3 separate regions of the Homo sapiens genome follow, and all the other regions are linked to region 1. The links come from fine-mapping of genetic effects on gene expression. A gene starts in region 1. Each other region holds a variant in brackets. All regions are shown on one strand. Distances are between the middles of the regions. Region 1 holds the start of MMP24OS (MMP24 opposite strand). Region 2 overlaps MMP24-AS1-EDEM2 (MMP24-AS1-EDEM2 readthrough). Region 3 overlaps MMP24-AS1-EDEM2 (MMP24-AS1-EDEM2 readthrough).

What was found. PIP is the estimated chance that this variant, and not a neighbour inherited with it, causes the effect.
Region 2: its variant is fine-mapped to the expression of MMP24OS in spleen (GTEx, PIP 0.98).
Region 3: its variant is fine-mapped to the expression of MMP24OS in lymphoblastoid cells (GEUVADIS, PIP 0.93).

The regions. Positions count from the first base shown.
Region 1 is chr20:35,276,059-35,283,138 of GRCh38, forward strand. It overlaps MMP24OS (MMP24 opposite strand), which reads right to left and starts at 2,064. Exons shown (of 2, transcript NM_001355003.2): 1 at 1,951-2,064; 2 at 294-1,874. The coding sequence starts at 1,871. The coding sequence ends at 1,656. MMP24-AS1-EDEM2 (MMP24-AS1-EDEM2 readthrough) reads right to left here and starts at 2,064. Exons shown (of 15, transcript NM_001355008.2): 1 at 1,988-2,064. MMP24 (matrix metallopeptidase 24) reads left to right here. Exons shown (of 9, transcript NM_006690.4): 9 at 1-940. EIF6 (eukaryotic translation initiation factor 6) reads right to left here. Exons shown (of 7, transcript NM_002212.4): 4 at 4,596-4,771; 5 at 3,884-4,060; 6 at 3,508-3,689; 7 at 2,860-3,148. The coding sequence ends at 3,139. RefSeq lists enhancers at 1-607, 1,194-1,293, 1,414-1,583 and silencers at 1,714-1,933, 2,024-2,243.
Region 2 is chr20:35,206,210-35,217,099 of GRCh38, forward strand. The region is part of intron 4 of MMP24-AS1-EDEM2 (MMP24-AS1-EDEM2 readthrough); the gene reads right to left. It also overlaps a transcript of PROCR not described here. Among named protein-coding and RNA genes, the nearest start is that of MMP24, 15 kb to the right of the region's middle. RefSeq lists an enhancer at 9,851-10,350. The variant T/G (reference allele first, on the strand shown) is at 5,268.
Region 3 is chr20:35,247,491-35,258,380 of GRCh38, forward strand. The region is part of intron 2 of MMP24-AS1-EDEM2 (MMP24-AS1-EDEM2 readthrough); the gene reads right to left. It overlaps MMP24 (matrix metallopeptidase 24), which reads left to right. Exons shown (of 9, transcript NM_006690.4): 3 at 4,415-4,531; 4 at 6,960-7,264. Among named protein-coding and RNA genes, the nearest start is that of MMP24-AS1-EDEM2, 25 kb to the right of the region's middle. The variant G/A (reference allele first, on the strand shown) is at 5,744.

The sequences.
Region 1 (7,080 bases):
CAGCGTGCTGGCCGGGTCTCGGATGCCACCCCTGCTCACTGAGCCTGCATGGGCCTTGCCCCCGACCCTGTGGTCTCTGGGATTGGGGTCGGCTTACCCTGTAGCACAGACAGGGACTCCTGCTGCCCTGGGAGCTGTCTCAAGCAAAATCTCTTGTCCCAGAGGTGCCCATGTGGGTCCGCTGTGTCCCCTGTCATCATCCTTGTTTTTTCTCATTTTGGCCAAGGGCAGGCTCCCTGGGACAGGCAGGGAACAACTGCGGAGATATTAGTGATTCATAGGTTTGTACAGTGTTTTATACTTTGCAAAGCACTTTATTAGCTCACACCTGTCCACTCACATGAAACTCGTGTTAGGCCCTGGGAGGCCGACGGTAACTCTCACCGTGCCCTCAGATGAAGCACAGAGAGGTTGTTACTTGCCCGGGCCATCCAGTGGGCTGGCTGGGTCTTGTGTCCCCATCTGTGGACCCCTCTAGGGTCTGAGATGAGATGAGAAGTGTCTCCTGTATCCACCTCTTCCTGGCCTCCCTTCCCCCACTTCCTGGTCCCTGTCCACTCCTCAGGTTGGTGCTCTCACTTCTTGAAAGCTCTAGGCACCCCCGCCTCCCGCCAGGCTCCCCATTGGCTCCTGGCAGGCCAGCTGAGAATGAACAGGAGATGGAGGCAGGCAGCCCAGGCTGCAGAGGTGAGGGATGTGGGGCCAGGCCCAGAGGGCTCAGCCTAGAGGCTTCCAATCTCAGATTCTCCTGCCTGTGGTCATCTGTTTGTCCATCACCCCAGGACAGGGCAGACAGAGGGGCAAAGCACTGGGGGCCCCAGAGCCTAGCTTCCCCTCAGCCTGGGGGACATCACAGCATTTCAGTGTCAGTCACATTTTAAACTGATCAGCCTTTGTATAATGTTTTTTAAATCATTTCTAAATAAAACAGAAATACAGAGTGTGTCATTTCCCTGGGATGAGGGAACAAAGATCAGGTTCCAAGAGTAACCTTAGGACGCTCTGGGAAGAGAACCGGGTCCTTTGGGGTGTCTGGGAGCTGCCCACCCATCTCCTCTGCCAGACCGGCGGTCAGATAGCCTCCCTCTACAACAGGCTGGCCCTGGGGGCCCAGGGTTATTGGGGTTCCAGGAACACAGCCTGATGATGCCTCCTTACGATCCAGGATGGAGAGCAGCCCCCCCAGGAGTATGGGGAGGGTCACTGTGGCACGGGCTTCTCCATGACCTGGGACATGACCTGGGACACATAGTCAAGAGCACGGTTATCAGCAATACAGATATTAATAAAAGGCAGACGAAGTCAGGAGGTCAGCAACTTTGCGGGCTTACCAGGAGGCCTGTCCTGCCTCTGGAAGCCAGCGACAGAGAGGGATGCCCCCGACCCAGCCAGCCGGAGAAAGGGATGGGGTGGTCACGAAGGTCTGAGCTGGGTCTGGGTGTAGGCTGGGAAGCAGGCTGGGGTGTAGACTGCGAAGGCGGCCCTGCCGGGACTTCTTTCCAGTCCCCGGCGACCTCTTCGAATTCTCTGCTATCTCTGGGGAGCCTCGGGTGGGAGGGGGTGTAAGAGACGCAGGGACGTGGGGAGAGGAGACAAGGCAGGCAAGAACCACAGGGGACGGCGGACAGACGGGCGACATCCTGCGGAGGACGCCGTCAGTACCAGGAAGTGCAGGCGATGAGGAAGCGCACGTCGTCCAGCGGCCCCCACGGGCTGGGCTCGGGCTGGGGCTGGGGCTGGGGCTGGGGCTGGGGCTGGGGCGGATGCCGGGGCTGTTCCGGGCCCTCCGGCGCCGCAGGCTGGGGCTGGGGCTGGGGCTGGGTTTGCGCAGGCTCCGGGGCGCCGCGGCCGCCGCTTAGCTGAGCCCCCATGGTCTGCAAGAAGAGAAGCCCTTTAAGGTCTGGGTCGCCGGGACACCCCGCTAGGGCCCCGCCCCGGCTCTGCCCTCACCTCTCGCAGCCAGACCCGCGGGTCTCCCGGAACCCACCTCGGCGTCGGGAGGAGCTGGCGCCGTGACGCCACCACCGCGTACCGACCTCACCCTCCGTGCGTTGGAGCGGAAAGAAGGGACTCGACCCTGTGCTTCGGGGCGGGGCTCCGCGACCGTCCCCCGCCAATCCCGCCCCAGCGCCTCAAGGCCCCGCCCCGCGCAAGGGGACGGAATGCACCCCAACAGCCTCCAAGACGCCCAGGCCAGGAGGACGCTGGGAACCCGCTGCCCCGCCCCACGCCCACCCAGGAAAAGACCTGCAACCTCCATCCACCTTAGTCAAAGAATGCCCCGAAGCCAGATGCCCCAGAGCTCTCACAGGGGACTTGCCCAGCTCAGGGGAAAATCGGAACGGACTCTCTGCCTTTCAAGGCCAGAGAAGACCGGCGCAGAAGTCGGGTGAAAACTGTGAGAACTAGACCGGGCGCCGTGGCTCACGCCTGTAATCCCAACACTTTGGGAGGCCGAGGCGGTGGGTCGCTTGAGTTCAGGAGTATAAACCAGCCTGGGCAACACAGTGACTTCGTTTCTACAAAAAAATAAACGAGGCGAGAGGATCGCTTGAGCCCAACAGGTCAAGGCTACAGTGAGCCATCCTTGCGTCACAACACTCCAGCCTGGGTGACAGAGGGAGACACTGCCTCAAAAAGAAAAAAGAAAAAAGGAGAACTGTAGTGGAGAGTGTTTCTTGCCCCAGGATGAAGCCTCACATCCTGATGGTAGAGGAGAAGGGAATGGCGTGTGTGGAGGTGGTGAACTGGGTTGGGTGTGTGTTGTGTTCATCCCACCCTATCTTCCCAGAATGCTGGAACAACTGGAGAGTGCAGGGATTGTACACAGGCTGAGGGCCCCAAACATCACATTCAGAATGGCCCGGAGGGAACTGCACTTTAATGGGGTGGCACAGGACAGCAGAACCCTCAGCCAGCAGCCACAGGGCCTGCCAGCCAGCACAACAGAGCAGGTTTTTGCAGTAATGATAGATCCAGGCGATAAGCACAGGTGGAAAAGGGTTGGGTGCCCAGCCCCTCAGTCCCAGTGAGCTCTCTGCCACCTCCCTGCCAGCATCCGGTACAGATTGGGCGGAATGTGGAGAAGGTTGGCCACAGTCCAGAGCCAGGAGCCCATGGAACAACTTGGAAGGTGACTCAGGTGAGGCTGAAGAGAAAGGAAAGCGCACGGTCAGTAGCTGTTTCACAGAGCCCACCTCACTCTCAAGTGAGGTGCCTGCCTCAGCCCTCATCCCGGGACCAGCTCTGACAAGCTGCTCAAGCAGCTACTGCTCTAGTATCCTAGCCCTGAAAAACCACAAAGATGAGGATTAGCAGATGCTCAAGAAATATTTTTTGAATATGCTGGCTCTTATCTGCTCAGCAGTGTACAGATATGCTCTCACACTCGAGAAGCTACCAGAACAAACTGGTAGGCTCCCATTCTAGATGACATCTTTTCCCCATACTCTCAAAATGCAAGTTAACCCCCAACCCTGAGCAGAAGAAAGGAGAGGCCCCAGGTACCTGTCAATGAGGGAATCCCGCATGCTGGTGGCAATGGTGCTAGGCTGGGCTTCATTCAGCTTGAAGACACTCTCCACCACTGACAGCTCTGTGCTGGTTGTGTCCAGGCCACAGAAGGCACACCAGTCATTCACCACCATCCCAGCAGCAATCACCTCACTGCCTCGGTTCACAGTCCCCGCCTGCCAAGGGATGGGCTCAATGTGAGTCACGGCACCAAATTCTCTCCCTCCTCAATGAAGACTCTCCCCAAACCCTGCTCCTCCCTGACCTGCAGCCCCAGTCCCAAACTGTGGCAGGTAATGACCCAGACTCCCAAACACTAGGCAAAAGGATCTGCCTCGGGAGACGGGGTTCAGAGGACAGGAATGCTTACCACAAGGGGGACTTGAAGAAGAGAGGACAGCTCATCCTGGTCTTCAATTGAAGTCTTGGGATGCACCAGCCCTCCCTGATTGCTGAAGACACAGTAGCTTCCTACTAGCACCTGGTCGGCCACTGTCTGTCTGAAGACTTCCACCTTGAGCACATCTGCCAGAATTTCTTCTGTCTCCTGTCAATCAAAGATATTGTGTTCAGGGCTCAGAACTTACAGCCCCAGAACCAAGGTTCTCCATGCCCAGAAGCATCCAGGCCTTGGCTCCCTGAGCCCCTCATTTCTCCTCTGTACCTCATATGAAAGCCTCACCCAGAGAAAGGAGGAAGTACAGCTTAGAGCAGAGTCAAGGGCAGCTGTGAAGCCCCTAATATTCATGCATGCCCTGAACAGCTGGAGGCTGGTCTCAATATCACTTCTTTCCCCTCTCACCCACAGTCAAAAGTTCAACAGTCAATCACCTATCCTGGCCCAGGATGCAGGACTGGATGGTTCAATCTCCCCAATCATGAAGGATTCATACCCTCCCCAGCTTCTTTCTGACACTTGATAAGGCCTCTGTTATCACTATTCCAATGAGTACCTGAAACTCAAGAGCCCATATAGAAAAACCACAGGAGAGACCCCTAATTGCTGCCTGTTGGGAAAGAACAGTGGCTAACCACTGACTAGGATGGCCCTGTGACTCTTGGGTCAAGTTGGGCTGCCTCACCCTGTCCAAGTCTGGGTGGACCAAGGCCACGTAGTCATTGCAGGTGGTGACATTGCCCAAGGCTGAGAGCCGCTCCTCCACCCGCCTAATCTGCACTGTGTCTGGGAGGCTGTTGCGAATGTGTTGCAGCTCCTGGTCGGTGGTATTGTTGGGTACCAGGAGACCGTGCCTGTTCCCTGGAGAAACCCAAATTAGAGGGTGAATACACAAGATGCCTGCTGAGCCCTAGGGGCTGAGGATACCACTCAGCCCAGCCCAATCAGCTTTCCCAGGAAAGCTTTAGGCCCAGAGCCCAGCCCTCCAACCCACTGATCTGGAAAACACCCAGGGCAGGCCAGAGACCACCCAGGAATCCCAATAAATCCTGCCTACTTCACCATCACCAACTGGGAGGGAAGCTGAGCTCTTGGCATTAGCTGTATATTTTGCTACTTAAAAACTGAGCTGCCGGGCGTGTTGGCTCACGCCTGTAATCCCAGCACTTTGGGAGGCTGAGGTGGGCAGATCACAAGGTCAGGAGATCGAGATCGAGATCATCCTGGCTAACACGGTGAAACCCCGTCTCTACTAAAAATACAAAAAATTAGCCAGGCGTGGTGGCGGGCGCCTGTAGTCCCAGCTACTCGGGAGGCTGAGGCAGGAGAATGGCGTGAACCCGGGAGGCGGAGCTTGCAGTGAGCCGAGATCGCGCCACTGCACTCCAACCTGGGTGACAGAGCGAAACTCCGTCTCCAAAAAAAAAAAACAAAAAAACAAAAAAAACTGAGCTAACACTACACACATAGCAGAATGGCTAGATTATTATTTTTTAAGGCAGAGTCTCACTCTGTCACCCAGGCTGGAGCGCAGTGGTGCGATCTCAGCTCACTGCAACTTCTGCATCCTGGGTTCAGGTGATTCTCCTGCTTCGGCCTCCTGAGTAGCTGGAATTACAAGTGCGTGCCACCACACCTGGCTAACTTTTTGTGATTTTGTAGAGATGGGGTCTCACTATGTTGGCCAGGCTGGTCTCGAACTCCTAACCTCAGGTGATCCGCCCACCTCGACCTCCCAAAGTGCTACGATTACAGGTGTGAGCCACTGCCCCCAGCCAGAATGACTAAAATTTTTACAAGTCATCAATTCCAAGTGTTGGCAAAGATATATGGAGCAACTGAACTCTCATACTGAGACAGGAGTGTAAGTTGGTCAATCACTTTAGATAATTATCTGGCATCATCTGCAACTACTACTAAATAGTCACATAACCTGTGACTCTGCCATGCCACTCTTAGGTATCATATACCCAGTAGAAATATGTACATGTGTTCACTAAAAAAACATAGCAGCACTATTACTTTTTTTTTTTTTTTTGAGACGGAGTCTTGTTCTGTTGCCCAGGCTGGAGTGCAGTGGCACAATCTCGGCTCACTGCAAGTTCTACCTCCCCGGTTCACACCATTCTCCTGCCTCAACCTCCCAAGTAGCTGGGACTACAGGCACCCGCCACCACACCTGGCTAATTTTTTTGTATTTTTAGTAGACACGGGGTTTCACCGTGTTAACCAGGATGGTCTCGATCTCCCGACCTCGTGATCCGCCCGCCTCGGCCTCCCAGAGTGCTGGGATTACAGGCGTGAGCCACCATGCCCGGCCAGCAGCACTATTCCTAACAGACCAAAGTGAAAACTGCCCAAATGCACTGTCGATGGAATGGATGAATACGTTGTGATATACTTACACAAAACACACCATACAGCAACAAGAATGAACAATCTACAAATACACGCCAATCAATTTCTGAATTCCAGGTCACTCCCATCATAAAATACACAAGGACTAAGCTAAAATCTCCCTTGTTGTCAGAACTTGCTTCAAGTCCTAAGGGCATGGTTAGAGATCAGAGTATTTTAACTGAATAGGAAAATACTTTGAGGTCACTAGGCTTAAGTTTTTGTTGTTGTTGTTTTTTGTTTTTTGTTTTTTTTTGAGACACAGTTTCACTCTTATTGCCCAGGCTGAAATGCAATGGCACAATCTCAGCTCACCGCAGGGTGAGCTCCACCTCCAGGGTTCAAGCAATTCTCCCGCCTCAGCCTCCCAAGTAGCTGGGATTATAGGTATGCGCCACCACACCCGGCTAATTTCTGTATTTTTAGTAGAGACGGGGTTTCTCCATGTTGGTCAGGTTAGTCTCGAACTGCTGACCTCAGGTGATCCACCTGCCTCGACCTCCCAAGCAGGCTTAAGATTTTTAAAAATTAAAGTAAAAGTAAAAAAATAAAATAAACAGACTTCTAAAAGTGACCTCAATGAGCAGAACTAAGAAACAATGGGCAGCAGTAATGGAAGACAGATCCAGCTTAATGAAAGGACCGGCCGGGCGCAGTGGCTCACGCCTGTAATCCCAGCACTTTGGGAGGCCGAGGTGGGAGGATCACCTGAGGTCAGGAGTTCAAGACCAGCCTGGCCAACATGGTGAAACTCCATCTCTACTAAAAATACA
Region 2 (10,890 bases), 68 kb before region 1:
CATGCCTGTAATCCCAGCACTTTGGGAGGCTGAGGCAGGCGGATCACGAGGTCAGGAGTTCAAGACCAGCCTGGCCAACATAGTGAAACCTCGTCTCTACTAAAAATACAAAAAAATTAGCCAGGCATGGTGGCAGGCACCTGTAATCCCAGCTACTCAGGAGAATGAGGCAGGACAATCACTTGAACCCGGGAGGCAGAGGTTGCAGTAAGCCAAGATGGCGTCACTGCAGTCCAGCCTGGGCAACAGTGTGAGACTCTATCTCAAAAAAAAAAAAAAAAAAAAAAACTCTCAAAACTCAGAAATAAGAAAACAAACAATTTTTTAAAAAGGCAAAAGTTTTGAACAGGCACCTCACCAGAGAAGATACATGGATGGCAAATAAATATTTGAAAATATGCTCAACATCATTTGTTGGTAGGGAATTGCAAATTAAAACCACAGTAAGGTATGTCTATACACCTATTGAAATTGAAAAAAATCCCTGACAATACCAATTGTTGGTGAGAAGGCGGAACAACTGCCACTCTCATAAATTACTGGTGGGAAAACAAAATGATACAGCCCCTCTAGGTTTCTTATAAAGTTAAACACACACTTACCATAGGCTCCAACAATCCCTCCTAGAAATTAGCCCAAGTAAAATGAAAATTTATGTTCATACCAAAACCTGTACGTGAATGTTTACAGAAGCTTTATTCATAATTGCCAAAACTAGAAACAACCTAAATATTCCTCAACTGGGAAGTGGAGTAACAAACTGTGGTACATCCATACAATACACTACTACTCAGCAATGAAAAGGAATTGACTACTGATACACTCAACAACATGGATGAATCTTAAATCCATTATGCCAAGTGAAAGAAGCCAAATTCAAAATACAACATATTGTATGGTTCCATTTTATATGACAGTCTGGAAAAGAAAAAACTATAGGAATAGAGAACATATCAGTGTTGCCAGGGCTTAAGGGTAGGGAAGGCTTTGACTACAAAGGGGTAACAAAAGGGAATTTGGGAAGGTGATTAACTGTTTTATTTTTTTGTTTGTGTGTGGTGGTGTTTACATAATTCTTTGCATTTGTCAAAACTCACAGAACTCTACACCAAAATGTAAATTTTACTGAATGTAAATTACAATTAAATTATATGTATGCAAATCTATTATGTGTATGTTTGTGTATATATATATATATATATATACACATATGAATATTTTTAAAAGCTTTTTCCCCTCATATTACTATCAAGTCATATCTCACAGATTTTGTATTTGTACAATTATTCTTTCTTGAGCCTGAAATTAGTTAGGACTGTTTTGTTTTGTTTTTTTCTTGAGATGGAGTCTTACTCTGTTGCCCAGGCTGGAGTACAGTGGTATGATCTCGGCTCACTGCAACCTCTGCCTCCCAAGTTCAAGTGATTCTCTGGCCTCAGCCTCCCGAGTAGCTGAGACTACAGGCGCTCACCACCACACCTGGCTAATTTTCATATTTTTAGTAGAGACGGGGTTTCTCCATGTTGGTCAGGCTGGTCTCGAACTCCTGACCTCAGGTGATCTGCCTGCCTTGGCCTCCCAAAGTGCTGGGATTACAGGTGTGAGCCACCACGCCCGGTCAAGTTAGGACTGTCTTCATCTCTGTTAACCTTCCATTTCCTCTCCTTCCACAAAACCTAAACTTTATTATTATTTGAAACATAATTTTTGAGTAAGTTATTCCGTCTCAAGAAGGTCCAATTCGTGTTATTGAGAATGGTAAAATAATACACTACCTGCCCTGGGCACTTTAGTGAGAATCCATTTATTGGGTTAACTAGCAGTGACTGTGGATGGCAGTGAGCAGGCCTGGGAGTGGCCAGGACATAGGACAGATGTGCTTTGATGGGAGAGAAGGGAAGGAAAAGCCGGCAGCACAGCGATGGGAAACTAGAGGCCAGAGGTAGAGGTGGAGGGCAATGATCAGGGAGCAGAGATGACAGCATGCCAAGGACATCCTGTGCTGACTTCACAGGCTGGCTCTGGGCATAGGCCAGTCTCTTCCTGGAGCTTTCATTTTCTCTCTTCGGAATCTGTCAACTCTCTACTGCAATCTGTTCCACAGTCGTATAGCCAAAATCCTCTTGCTCTGTGTCTGTTTATTCAACAAATATTTATCTTAACTGACTCTAATCACATTGTCTCCTGTTTGTCCTGCAGTGAAGCCCTTTTACATCTGCTTATCTCTTTTGATCCAAGGGAAGGAGACTTAACCCTGACTTCCAGAGAAGGAAATAGTCTCAGAAAGGTTAAGTCATTTATCTGAAGTTGCCCTTTTAATACTGAGTACTGGACTCTCTCAGTATCCGCGTACTCTGCTGCCCCCTACCGTGAACATAGCAATAGGTTTTAAATCACAAAAACACACAGCAGAACACTACACAACACTGGAAAGACTACGACACTATAAATAGTGCTTACATTTGTTCATTTAGCAAATATTCAGCTGGACGTGGTGGCTCACGCCTGTAATCCCAGCACTTTGGGAGGCCGAGGCAGGTGGATCACTTGAGGCCAGGAGTTCAAGACCAGCCTGGCCAACATGGTGAAACCCCACCTCTAAAAATACTAAAATTAGCCGGGCATGGTGGCACGCACCTGTAATACCAGCTACTCGGGAGGCTGAGGCAGGAGAATTGCTTGAATCCAGGAGGCGGAGGCTGTAGTGAGCCGAGATCACACCACTGCACTCCAGCCTGGGTGATACAGCAAGACTCCATCCCCAAAAAATAAATAAACAAATATTAATTGAGAGCCTACTATATGCCAGAAATAAGCAGGTATTGTCCTTGTGTTCATGGAGCTTATGGTGTAGAGGGGGAGACAGAATTACACAAAATAATTACTTAATTACAGTTTGAATAAATACTATGAAGTACAAGGTGCTATATGAGGGTATAGAATAAGGGTATGTAGCCTGGTCTGGAGGCTTAGGGAAATCTTACATGAAGTAGAATTCATAGGAATAAATTATTGGTTGGCTATGGGGGAGGTTAAAGAGACATCAAGAATGCCTTCCAGGTCTCTGGCATGAACAACTGGGCAGATAGAGCACTGTTACTAAGCAGGGGAAGCCTAGAGGAGGAAGACATTATGAATGGAAAGAATATGAACTTGGCTTTGGCTTTTTGCAGTTCGGGAATCCCACGAGACATTAAGGTATAGATGTGGAATAAGCAATCAGATTCAGGAGTTTGGGAGCAAGGTCTATGCTAGAAATAGAAAGTTGGGAGTTGTTGGGATACAGATTATATTTGAAACTGTGGTCATGGATGACATTTCTTAGAAAATAATAGAAAGAGTAGAAGGCTTATAACTTCCCTGAGAAACTCCAGAATTTAAAAGGTCAACTGGAAGAGATGGAGCTAGCAAAAACTTAGGACAAGGGGCCAAGGAGGGGAAAATCAGGAATGTGCAATGATGCCAAAGTCAGGGGAAGTGTATTTCAAAAAGAAGACTGGTCAACCATGGTGGTAATTACAAAGAAATCAAGTGCAATGACTTTCTTGGTCTACGATGATTTTTTTGGTCTGCCTAGTGAAACAGATTCAGTTTCAGAGGACTAGAGGTGGAGAAGACTAGGCCACTACCTCTTAGAAAACCTCCTAAAGGCCACCATAGCCTATGGTCTTGAACCAGTGGTCTTCATAGTCTTTTGCTCACATACCACTTAAAATAATTTTGATAAATAATGTGAGCTGGGCACAGCGGCTCAAGCCTGTAATCCAAATGTTTTGGGAGGCTGAGTCTGGAGGATCACTGGACCCCAGGAGTTTGAGACCAACCTGGGCAACATAGAGAAACTCCATCTCTACAAAAATTAAAAAATTAGCCAGGTGTGGTGGTGTGTGTCTGTAGTCCTAGCTATTTGGGAGGCTGAGGTGGGAGAATTGCTTGAGCCCAGGAGTTCAAGGCTGCAGTGAGCTATAATCATGCCACTATACTTCTACCTGGGCAACAGAGCAAGACCCTATCTCTAAGAAAATAAATAAATAAAATTTTTAAAAAACATTAGGCCAAGTGCAGTGACTCATACCTGTAATATCAACACTTTGGGAGGCCAAGATGGGAGAACTGTTTGAGCTTAGGAATTGAGGACCAGCCTGGGCAATATAGTATGACCTCATCTCTATGAAAAATTTTTAAAAATTAGGTGGGTGTGGTGGCACACGCCTGTAGTCTCAGCTACTTGGGAGGCTGAGGCGGGAGGATCACTTGAACTCAGGAGATTGAGGCTGCAGTAAGCTACGGTTGCGCCACTGCACTCCAGCCTGGGCAACAGAGCGAGACCCTGTCTCAAAACAAACAAACAAAAATATAGACATATTTTTAAAAGATAATAGAAGGCTATTTTCTGAATCTTGTATTTTTAACTGTCCCCAGTTCTGAACTTTTTTTTAATTGCCCCGTGCAATGTATCATTCAGGGTGGGTCAGATATATGCCTTTCTTTCTTTTCTTTTTTCCATTTTTTTTTTTTTCTCTGAGATGGAGTCTCACTCTTGCCCAGGCTAGAGAGCAATGGTGTGATCTCGGCTCACTGCAACCTCCACCTCCAGGGTTCAAGCGATTCTCCTGCCTCAGCCTCCCCAGTAGCTGCGATTACTGGCACGTGCCACTGTGCCTGACTAATTTTTGTATTTTTAGTAGAGACAGGGTTTCACCATGTTGGCCAGGCTGGTCTTGAAGTCCTGACCTCAGGTGATCCACTCACCTCTGCCTCCCAAAGTGCTGGGATTACAGGCGTGAGCCACCATGCCTGGCCTTTCTTATGAAGACTAGCAGAACTACAATTATGAAGAAAAAGTCGGCTTGGAGCCTCAACCCCAGGAACTTTCTCAGGTGGAGTACATCTGGAAGTTGAGGATCTGGAAATGAATTTCCTTAAATATATCCATGCATGAGTACCGCTTACCAAGCCTTCATTTACTTTACGGCTATTGCATACCCCATTTGAAAACCAGTGTTGCAAAGGACTGGGGGCAATCTGAAACTACTGGGTTCCTGGAACCTGGCACTGATTGATGGGGCCAGTGGGCCCTAATGAGATTGCACCTCCATTTTAAAAGCGTGAAAGGTATAAGGAGATTCAGAGATAGGTGTAAATGGCTTGCGGGAGCCTCCAAAATTTTCAGGTCCAGGTACCTCCCACCCCTTCAAGGGACTGTCTGATACTATTCTATGGCTCCTGGAATGAAGAACCAGTCATCAGGACCTGCTGGCCTCTAT[T/G]AAATTAAGAGTCCAGTCAGATTTAACAACCTGAAGATGAGGTGTAACTGTGAAGCAATATATGGCTGATTTTTTAACACACCCATCCAAATACATCCACTCCAGCTGATTCATTCTCTCAACTCCCATGTGCTAGGTAATGTATGAGGTGCCAGAGTTACCCAAAAAACAAACAAAGCACAATCCATAGGCCAAGTCCTGCAGAAACTCTAGGAGAGAAACTTTTAAAGAAATAATTATAAAAACACTGTGATCGGCTGGGCGTGGTGGCTCACGCCTGTAATATCAGCACTTTGGAAGGCTGAGGCAGGAGGATCACCCGAGATCAGGAGTTTGAGACCAGCCTGGCCAACATGGTGAAACACCATCTCTACTAAAAATATAAAAAAATTAGCTGGGTGTGGTGGCTCACAACTGTAATCCCAGCTACTTGGGAGACTGAGAGCAGGAGAATTGCTTGAACCTAGGAGGCAGAGGTTGTAGTGAGCCAAGATCATGCCACTGCACTCCAGCCTGGGTTACAAGAGTGAAACTCTGTCTCAAGAAAAAAAAAAACAAACACTGTGATAAAGAGTTAATAAAACTATGTGCAAGAGCTAGGGGAGTACTGAAGAAAGAGTGATTTGAGTAAGAACTTTGTAAGACTTTGAGTAAGAACTTTTTAAGACTTTGGGAAAACTTCCCAAAGGAGGTCACATTAGAGTTATTTATTGGCAGGCGTGTAGTACATCATAGAGAAAAAGAGATGGCAGTGGAAGGATGTTCCAGGCAGAGGATGCAGCATGTCACATGGGCAGCCAGTGTCCAAGTGACACTCAAGGGGCAAGACCTGCTTCATGGACTTGTGACCTCTGTAGTCACACAGGGCCCCCCTCTTAGAAGGGCCCTCACGCTTGTTTTAATGTTCTGCTGTCATCATTTTGAAATTCTTATTTTTTTTTTAACAAGGAGACTTGCATTTTCATTTTTGCACTGGGCCCTGCAAATTACGTAGCAGGTCCTGCAAGAGGGCAAGATGAAGGCAGGGAGACCTGCTGGGAAGTTATTACTGCGGTCCAAGTAAGAGATAATGAAGGGGCTAAATCAAGGTCTTGTCGTAACAGTAATACACAGCCACACCATTTTCAACTTCTTCCCAGTGTATTCCTCAGTTTAGATGTAGCAATTTCCCCAACTGGAAAGTACTTAGGTTGATTTTGGTGTTTTGTAATTACAAAGAATGAGGCAATTGAATAATTTGCTACAAATAATTTTGTGTTTGCACCTATGCAAGGATATCTATCTAGGATAAATTCTCAGAATTAGAATTGATGGGTCAAAGGTATGCTCATTTTCAAGGTTGATAGGCATTGCCAGTTGGTGACCTGAAGAGAGTAAACCAATTTGTATCTCTTCCAACAGTATGGAGGAGTATCTGTTTTATCATGCCCTCTTTAACACTCTGTAGTATCCAACCTTTTGGTATTTGCAGTCTGATAATGTTAAGAAAGCAGTGGCTGATTGTCTTAATTTGCCTTTCTTTAATTACAAACATGGTTGGTCATTTAAAAAATTATTATAGGAGTCTGTTCAGGCCAGGCACAGTGGCTCACGCCCATAATCCCAGCACTTTGGGAGGCCGAGGCAGATGGATCACTTGAGGCCAAGAGTTCCAGATCAGCCTGGCCAACACGGCAAAACCGCGTCTCTACAAAAAACACAAAAAAATTAGTCAGGTATGGTGGCATGTGCCTGTAGTCCCAGCTACTTGGGAGGCTGAGACATGAGAATCGCTTGAACCAAGGAAGCAGAGGTTGCAGTGAGTTAAGATCGTGCCACTGCACTCCATCCTGGGTAACGGAGCGAGACTGTCTCAAAAAAAAAAAAGAGTCCATTTATATTTCTGTTTGCATGAAGCCCATTTAGTCCTTCGCCATTATTGAATTGGGTCATAGGTCTTTTTCTTATTGGTTTATAACAGCTGTTTTACGTTAAAAAAATAATAATAAATATTTTACCTAGTTTATAGTTTGTTGCTTTATTTCTGCTTTTTTTTTGGCCATGCAGATGAAGGCCTGAATTTTTGAAACCTAAGTGAACTGTTACTGCTTTCACTGTATACCAGTATTTTGCAATATAAGCCCTCTTTTCAGGGAGTGGCCTTTAGAGACTATTACACTTATTTTTTTAGAAGCTCAGCTTGTTCATTTGGAGAACATACAATATTAAAGGGAAAAAATGCTCAGCTTGTACTTATTTTTTGAAGAGATAATATATCCACATGATTAAAAAGTCAAAAGATACAAAAAGGTATACAGTGAGAAAAATCTCCTTCCAGCCAGGCATGGTGGCTCCCACCTGTAATCCCAGCACTTTTGGGAGGCCAAGGCAGGCGGATCACATGAGGCCAGGAGTTCGAGACCAGCCTGCCCAACATGGTGAAACACTGTCTCTACTAAAAATATAAAAAATAGCTGGGCTTTGTGGTGTTTGCCTGTAGTTCTAGCTACTTCGGAGGCTGAGGCAAGAGAATTGCTCCAACCCAGGAGGCAGAGGTTTCGGTGAGCCGAGACTGTGCCACTGCACTCCAGCCTGGGTAACAGAGCGTGACTCCATCTCAAAAAAATAAAATAAAATAATTAAAAAAAATTAAAAAATAAAAATAAAAATTGCCTTCCCACCCTGTCCTCAAACCACTTAAGCTTCCCTCCAGGAAGTAAGCACTATTATCAGTTCCTTGGGTATCTGTCCCTATTTTATGTGTAAATGAGCAAGTGCATGCACACACATGTATTCTTTTTTCCGATTATTACACAAATAGTAGCCTACAATATCCAGGATTCTGCACCTTTGCCTTTTTTTTACCACTTAACATTACATTTTGGAAATAATGTCCTAATTATTCATAAATTCGTAAGTACTTCCTCATTTTAAAAAATGGCTGCATTGGGCCGGGCGCGGTGGCTCACGCCTGTAATCCCAGCACTTTGGGAGTCCAAGGCGGGTGGATCACAAGGTCAGGAGATCGAGACCATCCTGGCTATCACGGTGAAACCCTGCCTCTACTAAAAAAATACAAAAAAATTAGCTAGGCGTGGTGGTGGGCGCCTGTAATCCCAGCTACTCGGGAGGCTGAGGCAGGAGAATTGCTTGAACCCAGGAGGTGGAGGTTGCAGTGAGCCGAGATCGCGCCACTGCACTCCAGCCTGGGCGACAGAGCGAAACTCCATCTCAAAAAAAAAAAAAAAAAATTACAAAAGGCTGCATAGTGTCCCATTGTATGCATTGGTTTGAATATGCTTTTAAGGGAGAAACCTGAGTAAGAAATACTCTCAAGTCATTTGGGGCTGGACATTGAGACTGAGTCGGGGGATTGGACTGGGACCTTCTCTAGATCCTGAACAATCAGACCTTTTCCTTCCTCCAGGCCTTTACCTCCCATTTTCTTTTTCTTTTTTTTTTTTTTTTTGAGATGGAGTCTCACTCTGTAGCCCAGGCTGAAGTGCAGTGGCACCATCTCAGCTCACTGCAACCTCTGTCTCCTGGGTTCAAGAGATTCTCCTGCCTCGGCCTCCTGAGTAGCTGGGATTACAGGCACGCGCCACCAAGCCAGGCTAATTTTTTTGTGTTTTTAGTAGAAACGGGGTTTCACCCATGTTGGTCAGGCTGGTCTCAAACTCCTGACCTCAAGTGATCCACCCGCCTCAGCCTCCCAAAGGTGCTGGGATTACGGGCGTGAGCCACAGCGCCCGGCCTTTTACCCTCCATTTTCTGCCAATTAAAACTTCACACAGTCTTCCATTGCTTGTAACTTTTGAACACGTGTGTGGTAATGTTCTGTGTATATTGCATATAAAACTATTAGCTTTTAAAATATTACCAGTTTATATAGACTCATCTCAAATGCTACTTCCTTTTGGAAACCTTCCTTGATCTCCCTGATATCCCCAGCCAGAGTGACCTCACTCCCCTCTGAAATCCTATAGAATGGTGTAATGTTTTGTGGTTATTTGTCACGCCTTTTATGTGCACAAGTCTTATCTTTTTTTTTTTTTTAACCTGAAGACGGCCTCACTTGCCCCAGTACCTTCCACAGAGTGGCTTCTGAGTAATGTTTACAGAATTTTTGAGGTAATTAATGAATGAACAAAGGCACCAAGGGTTAAGGACATGAATTTAGTGTCAGACACTTGGGTTCTACTCCTGGTTTTGCTGTTTTTTAGGTGTGTCGTGGGGTAGGTCACTTCTCTCACCCTTTCCTTAGAATCCACTTCACAGGACAGTGGTGAGGATTAAGTGATTTGATGTAGGTAAATTGCTTTTCATTGACTGTTAGCTGCTGAAATAGGAATTCAGAGGAAGGAGGAGAGAGGTCAAGGAGACTTCCTAAGCTGGACTGTGCTCTCCAGCCACCCTCTCATTTATATTTCCTTTCAGATCTCTACTAAGAATGTCACTCTGGCCGGGCGCAGTGGCTCACTCCTGTAATCCCAGCACTTTGGGAGGCCGAGGCAGGAGGATCACTTGAGGTTGGGAGTTCGAGACCAGCATGACCAACATGGAAAAACCCCGTCTCTACTAAAAATACAAAATTAGCCAGGCGTGGTGGTGCATGTCTGTAATCCCAGCTACTCGGGAGGCTGAGGCAGGAGAATCACTTGAACCCGGGAGGCAGGGGTTGCGGTGAGCCGAGATCACACCATTGCACTCCAGCCTGGGCTACAAGAGCGAAACTCTGTCTCAAATAAATAAATAAATAAAACAAAATAAAAAATAAAGAATGTCACTCTTCCTTGTTCCTGCATTTTCTTTTTATGTCTTTATCTTTTGGGTAAATTTGCCTGGCTTCAGGGCGAAGGCCCTCCAGCACCAAGAGCTGCCTAGTACTGCAGATTCTTACGACCACTCAAATCTTTCTTTCCTTTATAAGAAACAAGCAACTCTACCCTATGGTTGAGCCAATGTGTCAGTTTCTTCCTATCCAAATGGATGGCATCCTGACATCTGCAGTGAGAGGCCAATGCAATTTGGTGGGGGTAGGGGCAAGGGTGGGGGAGTTTTGCAGAGCATAAAGAGCACAGTATCTTGGATCTTCAGCAGCTTGAGTTCAGTTCTTAACTTTTCTTGCCTCATTACAACAGTGTCACAACCCATTTTCCTCATACATTGAGAACTGCTGCAGTCAGGCACGGTGACTGTTACATGGCTGTTATATTGGCCATGGATGGCCAACATAGTGAGACCTCCATTTTAAAAAAAAAATTAAAATTAGTCAGGCATGATGACACGTACCCGTAGTCATAGCTACTCAGGAGACTGAGGTGGGAGGATCGCTCGAGCCCAGGAGTTTGAGGTTGCAGTGAGCTATGATCATGCCAGTGCACTCCAGCCTGGGTGACAGAGTGAGATCCTGTCTCTAAAAAAATAAAAATAATTAGAAAGAATATGATTGGAAAAAAATAAAAATACAAGTAAAAATAAAAAAGAACTCTTGTGAGGAAAGCATCTAACAATGCTAGACAAAAAGTAAGTAACCAACAAATGCAAGTTCTCCCTTTAAGCTCTTCTCCACACTGGTACCAGATTTGTACTGCTAAAAGTCCTGTTCTTTCCTCTTATTATGGAGGAATTATCCTAGCTCATA
Region 3 (10,890 bases), 27 kb before region 1:
CTAGAGCTCAGAAGGAAACAATGAGTTTTGGGGAGACACTTAGGAGGTAGTAACACTTAGGAGGTAGAAAAAAGCCATGAGGATGGTCCCAATCACTCAAGGAGAATGTAAAGATTCACGGGCAGGGTGCTGGGGATGGAACCCCACAAAGCCAGCCGAGAAGGGGCAGCCGGAGGGCAAGAAGCCTGACGTGATGATGTGATGCAATGTCATGATGCCACATGGTGTGGGGTGGTCAGTGGGGCCAGCCACTCCAGAGCCCTCCAACAGGAGCATGGCTGAAAGTTGTCTGCTGGGTTTAGTGACAAAGAGCTTGTTGTTAACCTCAGCAGAATGGTGGAGATGAAGTCAGACTGAAGTGGGGAGAAGCGGAGGTGAGGAGAAGAGGTGGCAAGTGGAGGGAAGACATTCAAGAAGCTTGACAGGGAGGTGGGGAGAAATGGGTAGCAGCTAGAGGATGAAGTTTTGTTTGTCTAAGATAGGAGAGAGTTGAACAGCCTTAAACTTGCTTAAGAAAGCTATGAGAGTTGTTTAAGAAAAGCCATTCACATCATTAAAGCATGGAAAAGAACAGGAGTGAGTTTCCTAAGGAGGTGGGAAGGGAGGGGAACCTGAGGCAGGTGGAAGATGCTAGCAGGGCTGGGTGAGGATCCAAGGGAGTTGGTGGGGGGAGGAACAGGAAATGCACCCAGTTGTGGATCAAGGATCAATTTGACGTAAGTCACTCCTGGACAGAATCATCTCTCTGGGTCTCAGTGTGTTCATTTGCAAAGGAGGGTGTTGGATTATGGCTCTAAATTCTAGATTCCCCCCCCCTTTTTTTTTTTTTTGATGAGATGAAGTCTCGATCTGTCACCCAGGCTGGAGGGCAGTGGCGTGATCTCGGTTCACTGCAACCACTGCCTCCAGGGTTCAAGCGATTCTCCTGCCTCAGCCTCCCAAGTAGCTAAGATTACAGGCATGTACCACCATGCTGGCTAATTTTTTTTGTATTTTTAGTAGAGATGGGGTTTCACCATGTTGGCCAGGCTGGTCTCGAACTCCTGACCTCAGGTGATCGGCCCACCTCGGCCTCCCAGAGTGCTAGGATTACAGGCGTGAGCCACCGTGCCCAGCCTAGATTCCATTATTTTAAGCATCTAAGCTTTTAAAACTTGGCAAGTCTGGGGTTTTAGGATCCTAAAATCCTGTGTGAACATTTCCCATTCCTAGGATTCTCTGATTATGAGTGTGAACTTCTTCTCCTGTGCTGTTGTGAATACAGTGGACTCCTTGGCCCCGTGGTCTCCAGAGTGGGCTGGTTAAAGAGAGCCCAGCCGCCTTTCAAAGCGGAGGTTATTTTGAGGGCTTTGCACAGGCCTCATGGCAGTGCATCCTGGGGCAGAAGCACTGGTGTCTCTGCTGCGGCACCACCTGGCCTTGGGTTTTACTCTGTTCCAAAAAGCCCCAGGCCTGTTGGATGGCGCTCAGAGAGTGGCAGGTGGATGGTGAAAGGAGGAGGCAGCGGGAATGATCCGAGGGAAAAGGATGGCATTTCCCACTTGCAGTTCTGCCCACACCTCCTTGTAGAAGGCGGGGGAGTTGTGGTCTGGAAGCAGGGGAAGGAGGAAGCCAGTTGCACTTATTAATCCAAGACCTGAGATGGGGAGTGTTCAGGGTAGAATTTAGAGCCCCAAGATGCAGCTCCAGCTCTGTGACCTTGGGCAATGGCTGCCTTTCTCTGAGCCTGTTTCCTCCCCTAGGTGCCTTTGGGTCTAACTCAGTCAGAGGTGGTTCTTGGTTCCCTTCCCAGGGACTGTTAATTAAAGGAAGCTAGATTAGCCATTTAAAGTCCTATGTTTGAGTGTCGCCTTGGGAAATGTCACACATTTATTCATTCACTCATTCATTTGGTCAACAACATAGTTCCTCTAGCTCAGCTTTGTGCTAAGCACTGACAGGAAAAAATAAAAGCTCCAGGCTTTGTTAAATTGCATTAATGAATAGTTCATTTTTTCATTCAACTAAGTTCCAGTCCTGCCTTGCTGATTTCTGTGTTTTGCAAGGTACTGGATTTATCTGTGGATTGTTTCCCTCATCTGTGAAATGGGAATAATAATTTCTTTTTTTTTTTTTTGAGACGGAGTCTCGCTCTGTCGCCCAGGTTGGAGTGCAGTGGCGGGATCTCGGCTCACTGCAAGCTCCACCTCCTGGGTTCAAGCCATTCTCCTGCCTCAGCCTCCCAAGTAGCTGGGACTACAGGGGCCCGCCACCACGCCCGGCTAATTTTTTTTTTTTATTTTTTAGTACAGACGGGGTTTCACCATGTTAGCCAGGATGGTCTCGATCTCCTGACCTCGTGATCCGCCCGCCTCGGCCTCCCAAAGTGCTGGGATTACAGGTGTGAGCCACCGTGCCTGGCCCGGGAATAATAATTTCTGTTACCTCACAGTGTTGTTTTGAGAATCAAACTTTTTTATTTTATTTATTTATTTATCTATTTATTGAGACAAGGTCTGACTCCCCTCACCCAAGTGTACTGGTGTGATCTTGGCTCACTGTAGCCTCAACTTTCCAAGCTCAGGTGATCCTCCCACCTCAGCCTCCCTAGTAGCTGGGACTACAGGCACATGCCACCATGCCTGGCTAATTTTTTGTATCTTTAGTAGAGATAGGGTTTTGCCATGTTGCCCAGGCTGGTCACAATCTTCTAGGCTCAAGCAATCTCCTGCCTCAGCTTCCCAAAGTGCTAGGATTATAGGTGTTAGCTACTGCACCTGGCCAAGAATTAAACATTTTAAAAGAATGTGCTGGGCGCAGTGGCTCATGTCTGTAGTCCCAGCACTTTGGGAGGCCAAGGTGGGCAGATCACCTGAGGCTAGGAGTTCAAGACCAGCTTGGCCAACATAGTGAAACCCTGTCTGTACTAAAAGTACAAAAATTAGCCAAGCGTGGTGGTGCGCGCCTGTAATCCCAGCTACTACTCAGGAGGTTGAGGCAGGAGAATTGCTTGAACTTGGGAGGCAGAGGTTGCAGTGAGCTGAGATGGCACCACTACACTCCAGCCTGGGCAACAGAGCGAGACTCTGTCTCAAAAAAAAAAAAAGAAAGAAAGAAAGAGAAATACCTGAAACTGGGTAATTTATAAAGAAAAGAGGTTTAGTTGGCTCAGGGTTCCACAGGCTTTACAGGAAGCATGGCTGGGGACGCCTCAGGAAACTTTCAATCGTAGTAGAAGGCAAAGGGGAAACAAGCACATCATCATATGGCAGGAGCAGGGGGAAGAGTGAGAAGGGGGAGGTGCTCCACACCATTAAACAACCAGATCTCATGAGAACTCACTCACTATCAGCAGAACAGCAAGGGGGAAGTCTGCCTGCATGGCCCAATCACCTCCCACCAGGCCCCGCCTCCAACAGAGACACAAATCAAAACATATCACCTGGTAACAAACAGATATCAGGATTTACGTAATTTCAGGCACTGGGCTACCTTCTTTTGAGGATACAATGATGAATAGGACATAGTTCCTGTCCTCAATTTACCATTTATTAGAGGAAATAAACCAATAAATTTTAAATCACAACACAATATAATAAGTGCTGCAGAGAATTATGTTCCACATCCCACAGTTGTTAAGCCACTTCTTTTTTTTTTTTTTTTCCTGAAACGGCATTTCACTCTTCTTGCCCAGGCTGGAGCACAATGGCACAATCTTGGTTCACTGCAACCTCCGCCTCACGGGTTCAAGCAAGTCCCCTGCCTCGGCCTGCTGAGTAGCTGGGATTACAAGTGTGAACCACTGCAGCTGGCTAATTTTTTTTTTTGTATTTTTAGTACAGATGGGGTTTCACCGTGTTGGCCAGGCTGGTCTCGAACTCCTGACCTCAGATAATCCACCCGCCTCAGCCTCCCAAAGTGCTGGGATTACAGGCGTGAGCCACCGTGCCCAGCTGAAGAGTTTGAATTTTATTCTCAGTGTTTGGGGAAGTCGCTGGAGGCTTTTAACCAGGGCATCCTGTAATCTCATTGCATTTACAGAGCATTTTCACATGTACTTCCTCCTTGAAGACGCACCTCCACCTAAGACCAAGAACTAGAGTTCTCATGTTGCAGAGGAGGAAACTGAGGTTCATATTGGTTCAGCCACTTGCCTGGGGGTCCTATGACTAGTGGTGGAGCTGGAGCTTATCAAGCCCATATATTCTGATTCTCAGTCTTTATACAGCTATTTCCTCATCTATGATTGTGAGTGCATGAATTAATGAATCAATCAATCATGTTCTTGTTGGGGTCCATCCAAGCCAGGGTCCCAGAGTGTAGCTTGAGGATGCACATTGCTTTCCAGACTGGAGCTGGGGAATAGGCAGTCCCTTCCTAAAGTGTTCAGTGACCACAGTGCATATGCGTGTGTGTGTGTCCTCTCTCTGCCCAGGTGGATGAAGAAACCCCGATGTGGTGTCCCTGATCACCCCCACTTAAGCCGTAGGCGGAGAAACAAGCGCTATGCCCTGACTGGACAGAAGTGGAGGCAAAAACACATCACCTACAGGTGCTTCGACTCTCCCTCTTCCTCCCTGCCTTTGGCTCCACCCTCACTCTGTTTTTCCTGGCCTGAGTTTCAAAGGCTCACAATGTAGGGGGGCCTGGGGATCAGGCTTACAACATAGGCCAAGAGCCAGGCATGTGGGCATTGGCACTAGGTGCTGAGAGCCCATAACCTTGTCCTCCTTGTGGCTTCCACAGGATGCTGTGACTCCAACCTCAGGTTTATTTGGTCCTCTGGGGGCTCTTAGTTGTCTTCTGTTTAGATGCCTATAGTTTTTAGGTTACAGGAAGTGGGGTATGAATGGTTTGGTAACTTTCAGCTGTGAAAAAGAATCGTGGCTTGCAGTGAGCTATATCATGCCACTGCACTCCAGCCTGCGTGACAGAGTGAGACTCTGTCTCCAAAACAAAACAAATGAAACAAAAACCACAAAACAAAACAAACAAAACCATGGCTTAATTCAGTCTCCTTATCACTGCCTGCCAAACCCCATTCCCTCTGATCTGGATCCTCCCACCCCAAAATCCACCTGATGGACTTCACCTGAGATTCCCAACGCAGAGTTCCAGTTGTTTCTTAAGGAGTATAAAGAACTGGGACCTGAATCATAATAGTGTCATCTTTGACTGTCTGGAGGAACCAAGGGCAGAGCAGGATCCATCTCCAAGTCAGATCAGTGGCCCAAGAACTAGATGATGGAGCCCATCACAGCAGACTGAAGCACCGGAGTGAGGCTGGGGCAAGGGCCAGGCATTGAGCAGGCTCAGGTGGGGGTGGGGCAAGGGGCAGGCACTGGACAGGCTCAGGTGGGGCTGGGGCAAGGGCCAGGCATGGGCAGGCTCAGGTGGGGCTGGGGCAAGGGCCAGGCATGGGCAGGCTCAGGTGGGGCTGGGGCAAGGGCCCGGCATGGGCAGGCTCAGGTGGGGCTGGGGCAAGGGCCAGGCATGGGCAGGCTCAGGTGGGGCTGGGGCAAGGGCCAGGCATGGGCAGGCTCAGGTGGGGCTGGGGCAAGGGCCAGGCATGGGCAGGCTCAGGTGGGGCTGGGGCAAGGGCCAGGCATGGGCAGGCTCAGGTGGGGCTGGGGCAAGGGCCAGGCATGGGCAGGCTCGGGTGGGTGCTGGCTGGCACTTCTCAAGGCTCTGCTGTCATCTCAGGTGGATCCCTTTGGTGCAGAGGCAAGATCTAAGACAGAGATCCTCAAGAGTTGAACTAAGG[G/A]CTCCCCTGCTGACAAGCACTCCCTACAGAACGGGACTTTTTTTTTTTTTTTTTTTTTTTCAGAAATCTGACAAGAGAAGGAAAGTTAGGGTTGAACTAAGGGCTCTTCTGCTGATAAGCTGTCCCTTCAGAACGGGATTTTTTTTTTCCAGAAATCTGACAAGAGAAGGAAACTTAAGAATCTAGGTTAGAAACTGAATAGACTCTTGGGTCTCTTGAAGGGGTAGAGTGGATCAAGAGAAAGAAGCACTGGGTTCTAACCCAACTCTGAGTAACTTCTATCACTAGACTTCTCTGGGCTTCAGTTTCCTTACGTGTGGAGTAGGTAGAATAATCCATGCCCCAGAGGGTCACAGGGCAGGGAACCCACAGGTAGTAACGTTGTTTTGTGAAGAACCAATGCAATATGAACACAGCGACGCTAAACAGCTAAACCTATAATGGATTAAATCAGATACCGGCCAGCTTCTAGGCAGACAAGCCAAAGATTGGTACCAAAGATTTTTTAAAGAGACTTTTCACTTAAACTCCTCTCTATTATTTGAATATTTTTATAACTTTTATAAATGAACATATTTCGTATTAGGGAAAAAAACTTAAAATTCAGAAAATGCTATCTACCAATTTCCTTTGGGTTTTTTTTTTTTTTTTTTGAGACAGAGTCTCACTCTTGTTACCCAGGCTGGAGTGCAGTGGTGCAATCTTGGCTCACTGCAACCTCTGCCTCCGGGTTCAAGCAATTATCCTGCTTCAGCCTCCCGAGTAGCTGGGATTACAGACTCACACCACCACGCCTGGCTAATTTTTGTACTTTTAGTAGAGACAGGGTTTCACCATGTTGGTCAGGCTGGTCTCGAACTCCTGACCTCATGTGGTCCGCCAGCCTCGGCCTCCCAAAGTGCTGGGATTACAGGCGTGAACCGCTGCGCCCAGCCCCAATTTACTTTTCTCAACAAACTAGAGTGGAATCCTTTATTCGACACAGCTTTGCTGGAGATCAAATGGAAAACACTGAGTAAAGCAAAGCCATCTGACTGAGGCAGGGTGGGGATCCAGAGCTCTGTTACTCAGCCTCTTCTTCAATCCCTGAGGCAGCTAAGCAGAATTCTAGGGTTCAAAATCAGATCACTGAGCCACATTGTCTCAGGTATCTATTTTAGCTCTGCTAGTCTCTGACTCTCTGATCTTGCCTAATGATCCTCCCCTCTCTCACCAGCATTCACAACTATACCCCAAAAGTGGGTGAGCTAGACACGCGGAAAGCTATTCGCCAGGCTTTCGATGTGTGGCAGAAGGTGACCCCACTGACCTTTGAAGAGGTGCCATACCATGAGATCAAAAGTGACCGGAAGGAGGCAGACATCATGATCTTTTTTGCTTCTGGTTTCCATGGCGACAGCTCCCCATTTGATGGAGAAGGGGGATTCCTGGCCCATGCCTACTTCCCTGGCCCAGGGATTGGAGGAGACACCCACTTTGACTCCGATGAGCCATGGACGCTAGGAAATGCCAACCATGACGGTAAGGCCATGAGGGGACAGGGGTCAGTCTTGGGCTGCTCAGTTGTTGGGAAAGAACTTGGAGGACATCCTAGATGAGTTTCCTGCTTTCTAGAGCCTCTTGTCCAAGAACTAAGACCGTAAGAGGGTGGGAACTGTGATTTCTGATAATATTCAACGTTCAATCCACCAGGGCCAGGGCCATGGAGATGAGTCAGATCACTTAGAAGATAGTCCGGTTGGCAGGAGAAAAGTAAGGTTAGGCCAGTAAGAAGATAAAGTAATGGACCAGAGGCTGAAGAAAAAGTTTAAAAGGGGCCAGGCACAATGGCTCACGCCTGTAATCCCAGTACTTTGGGAGGCCAAGGCAGGTGGATCACCTGAGGTCAGGAGTTCAAGACCAGCCTGGCCAACATGGTGAAACCCTGTCTCCACTAAAAATACAAAAATTATCTGGGCGTGGTGGCGGGTGCCTGTAATCCCAGCTACTCAGGAGGCTGAGGCATGAGAATCGCTTGAACCCAGAAGGCAGAGGTTGCAGTGAGCCGAGATCGCACCATTGTACTCCAGCCCAGGCGACAAGAGTGAAACTCCATCTCAAAAAAAAAAAAAGTTAAAAGGCATTAAAGCTGAAAGAGGGGTCTGAAAGTAGTAGGCTCTGGCCTGAATGATGAGGGCTCCAAAAGCCATCTTATGAATGACACGACTGGCTCTCTCCTTTGTCACCCTCACAGGTGAGTAGCAGGCCCTGAAATTATTCTGGCATCCTTGGATAATTTACCCTGCACCACTATGGTTCAATGAATATTTATGGAGGCAGAGTCAATACCGTGCAGCAATAGTAATGATACCCTGCAGGTTGCCAAAAAATTCATCATCAATATTTACTCACAAGGCACATGCTTAGTATGTAGGCAAGTGTACATTATTACACCCATTTTTAAGATGAAGAGTTGGGGCTCAACTGGCATAGCTGAAAGGTGACAATGCAGGTATCAAGCCCTGGTTCAACTACTGGCTATGTGATACCCTCGGTCTCCTCGTCTGCAAAGTGAGGGGCTGGATTAGGTGATCGCTAAGGGCCCTTCCAACTCTAATGAACATGATACAAAGTCTTGCAAAGACCAGGGGGAGCTGAATGTTTGAAAAAAATGGCATGATCTCTGTCCCCTGGCAGTCCAGAGTCAGTCTAGCAGGGGAGTTAGGTGTGCACGTAAGTAACCCTGTCATAGACAGACTCTACCCAAGGCTGTAGCAGAGGCACAAAGAAATATGTAGGAGTTTGGAGGAAAGAGGGACAGAGGAGTGTGGCTTTTGGATTATAAGAGATGATAATTAGTGGGTATGCTGGTGTTCTGAGGCCCGTGCCAAGTGCTTGCCACCCATTATGTGTGGAAACTATTATATCTATTAATACATTATAATGCATAATTAAATTTATGTATTAAGCAATATATAATGTTAAATTATTATTATAGGTAAATATTGCTATCTTCATTTTACAGATAGGTAAACTGAGATATAGAGAAACATTAAGTCACCTACCTAAGGTCCCACAGTTGGTGAATGGTGAAATAAGGCTTTGAATCTGGGCATTATGGCCCTGGAGCCCATGCTGTCAGCCATCATGCTAAGCTTCCATGGTTCTCAAACTGTAGGGCACAGCAGAATCACCTGGGAACCATTTTTAAGAATTCAGATTCCAGGCCAGGCACGGTGGATCACACCTGTAATCCCAGCACTTTGGGAGGCCGAGGCAGGTGGATCACCTGAGGTCGGGAGTTCAAGACCAGCCTGGCCAACATGGTGAAACCCATCTCTACGAAAAACACAAAAATTAGCCAGGCATGTTGGCAGGTGCCTGTAATCCTAGCTACTCTGGAGGCTGAGGCAGGAGAATCCCTTGAACCCGGGAGGCGGAGGTTACAGTGAGCCGAGATCATGCCACTGCACTCCAGCCTGGGCAACAGAGATTCCGTCTCAAAAAAAAAAAAAAAAAAAAAAAAAAGACTGCAGATTCCAGGACCCTAACCTCTTGTCATTCTGATTCTCTGGGTCCGGGGTAGGGCCTGGGAATCTGCAAGTGGTCTAATACATTCCTGGGGCCTTCTGATGCAGGTGTTCCATCACCATGAGAAACGCTATCTTAATACCTAGAGTTTTCCTACCTGGCCTGATCATAAGAACCAATGGGGGTTCTTGTTATAAACGGGGATTCCCAGGCCCTTCCCACAGAAATCCTGACTCTTGAGCTCAAACAAGCTTGGGAAACACCGAGCATCCTTTTTTCCTGCCCTGCGGCTGCTCCAGGCTGAGAGCAGACTCTCAAAGCTGGTTTGGTGTCTATAGTTGGGGCCATGTTTGGTGTCTATAGTTGGGGATCACCTCCTTGAGAACACTTTATATCATCGCATGGATTAGGGATTGGCAGCTCTGGGGTTATCTGTCAAAGGCTGGACCAGGAGGTGGTTTGGCCAAGGCTCAGCCTAGGCAAAGTCATGAACCTGTTAAATTGTTCTTTGTCCTCTTCTTTCTTCAGATTTTTGTCCTCTTTCCTATTGAACTCCGTTTCCTTTGCCCTGGTATCTCTCCCGTATGTCCTGCATGTATTCCTGGCTGAGTACCTGTTCTTTATCTCATTCTTATTTTTGGATCGGTGTCAACGAATGGCTGTCTGTGCTAACAGATAAGATGTGAGGAGAAGAGAACTAATATTTTTGAGGCCCTGTTATGTGCCAGGCACTGTTAGCTGATAGGGTTTTAGTTATATTCCTGATAGAGGCAAATGAATGTCCAAAGAGTTGTCCAGAGGCAACGGGAAGACACTCCCACTCCTCTGCCCTCCCCTTCTGCCCAGCACTGGGGGTGTGCACTTCCCACACCTGCTCCTTGCTTTTGCAGAACTTGTTGGACCCAGCCCCCAAATCCCAAGAGCCGGTGGTATGTGTGGGAAGGACCGGGGACCTGTGGATGGGCACCATCCCAGCACCTCTCCCATCTGTCCAACCCTAACCTTCATGAAAGACTGCCAATTCTGATAGAAATTCCAAGATTGCTAATGTTTTCTTTGGATAAGAATCAGGACTTTGCTCTGCTCTGGAAAACCAAGCAGGAACTGTCCAGATGCAGCTCAGGACCACAGCAATCGACTCCTGAACTGGAATGCAGTGAAGGCAGGTTTTGGGTGAGAGGCAAGGAACCAAAATTTATTGAGCATCCATATATTATCTCGTTTAATTTCCACATAGACTCAGCAAAGGGGTGGAGTTTCCTGGGAACTTTTTGAACTTATTAGCTTACTTCTTTTTTCTAAACTCTCATTATGGAAAATTTCAAACTCACAAAAGTAGGAAGAATGCTTCTATGATCTCCCAGATACCCACCACCTGCCTCAGCAATTATCAACGTTGTGGCATTCCTATTTATCTACCTTTTTTTGGCTGATGTATTTTAAAGAAAATCTCAGGCATTCTAACATTTCACCTTTAAATACTTTAGTATATACCTCTAACAGATAAAGGCTAATTTTTAACATAAGCACACAATCATTATCAAGCCCAACAAAATTAACAATAATTTTTTAAAATCTAATACCCAGTTCGAGTTCACTTTCCCAAAGTACCTTGGAAATGTCTTTTACAGTTGTTT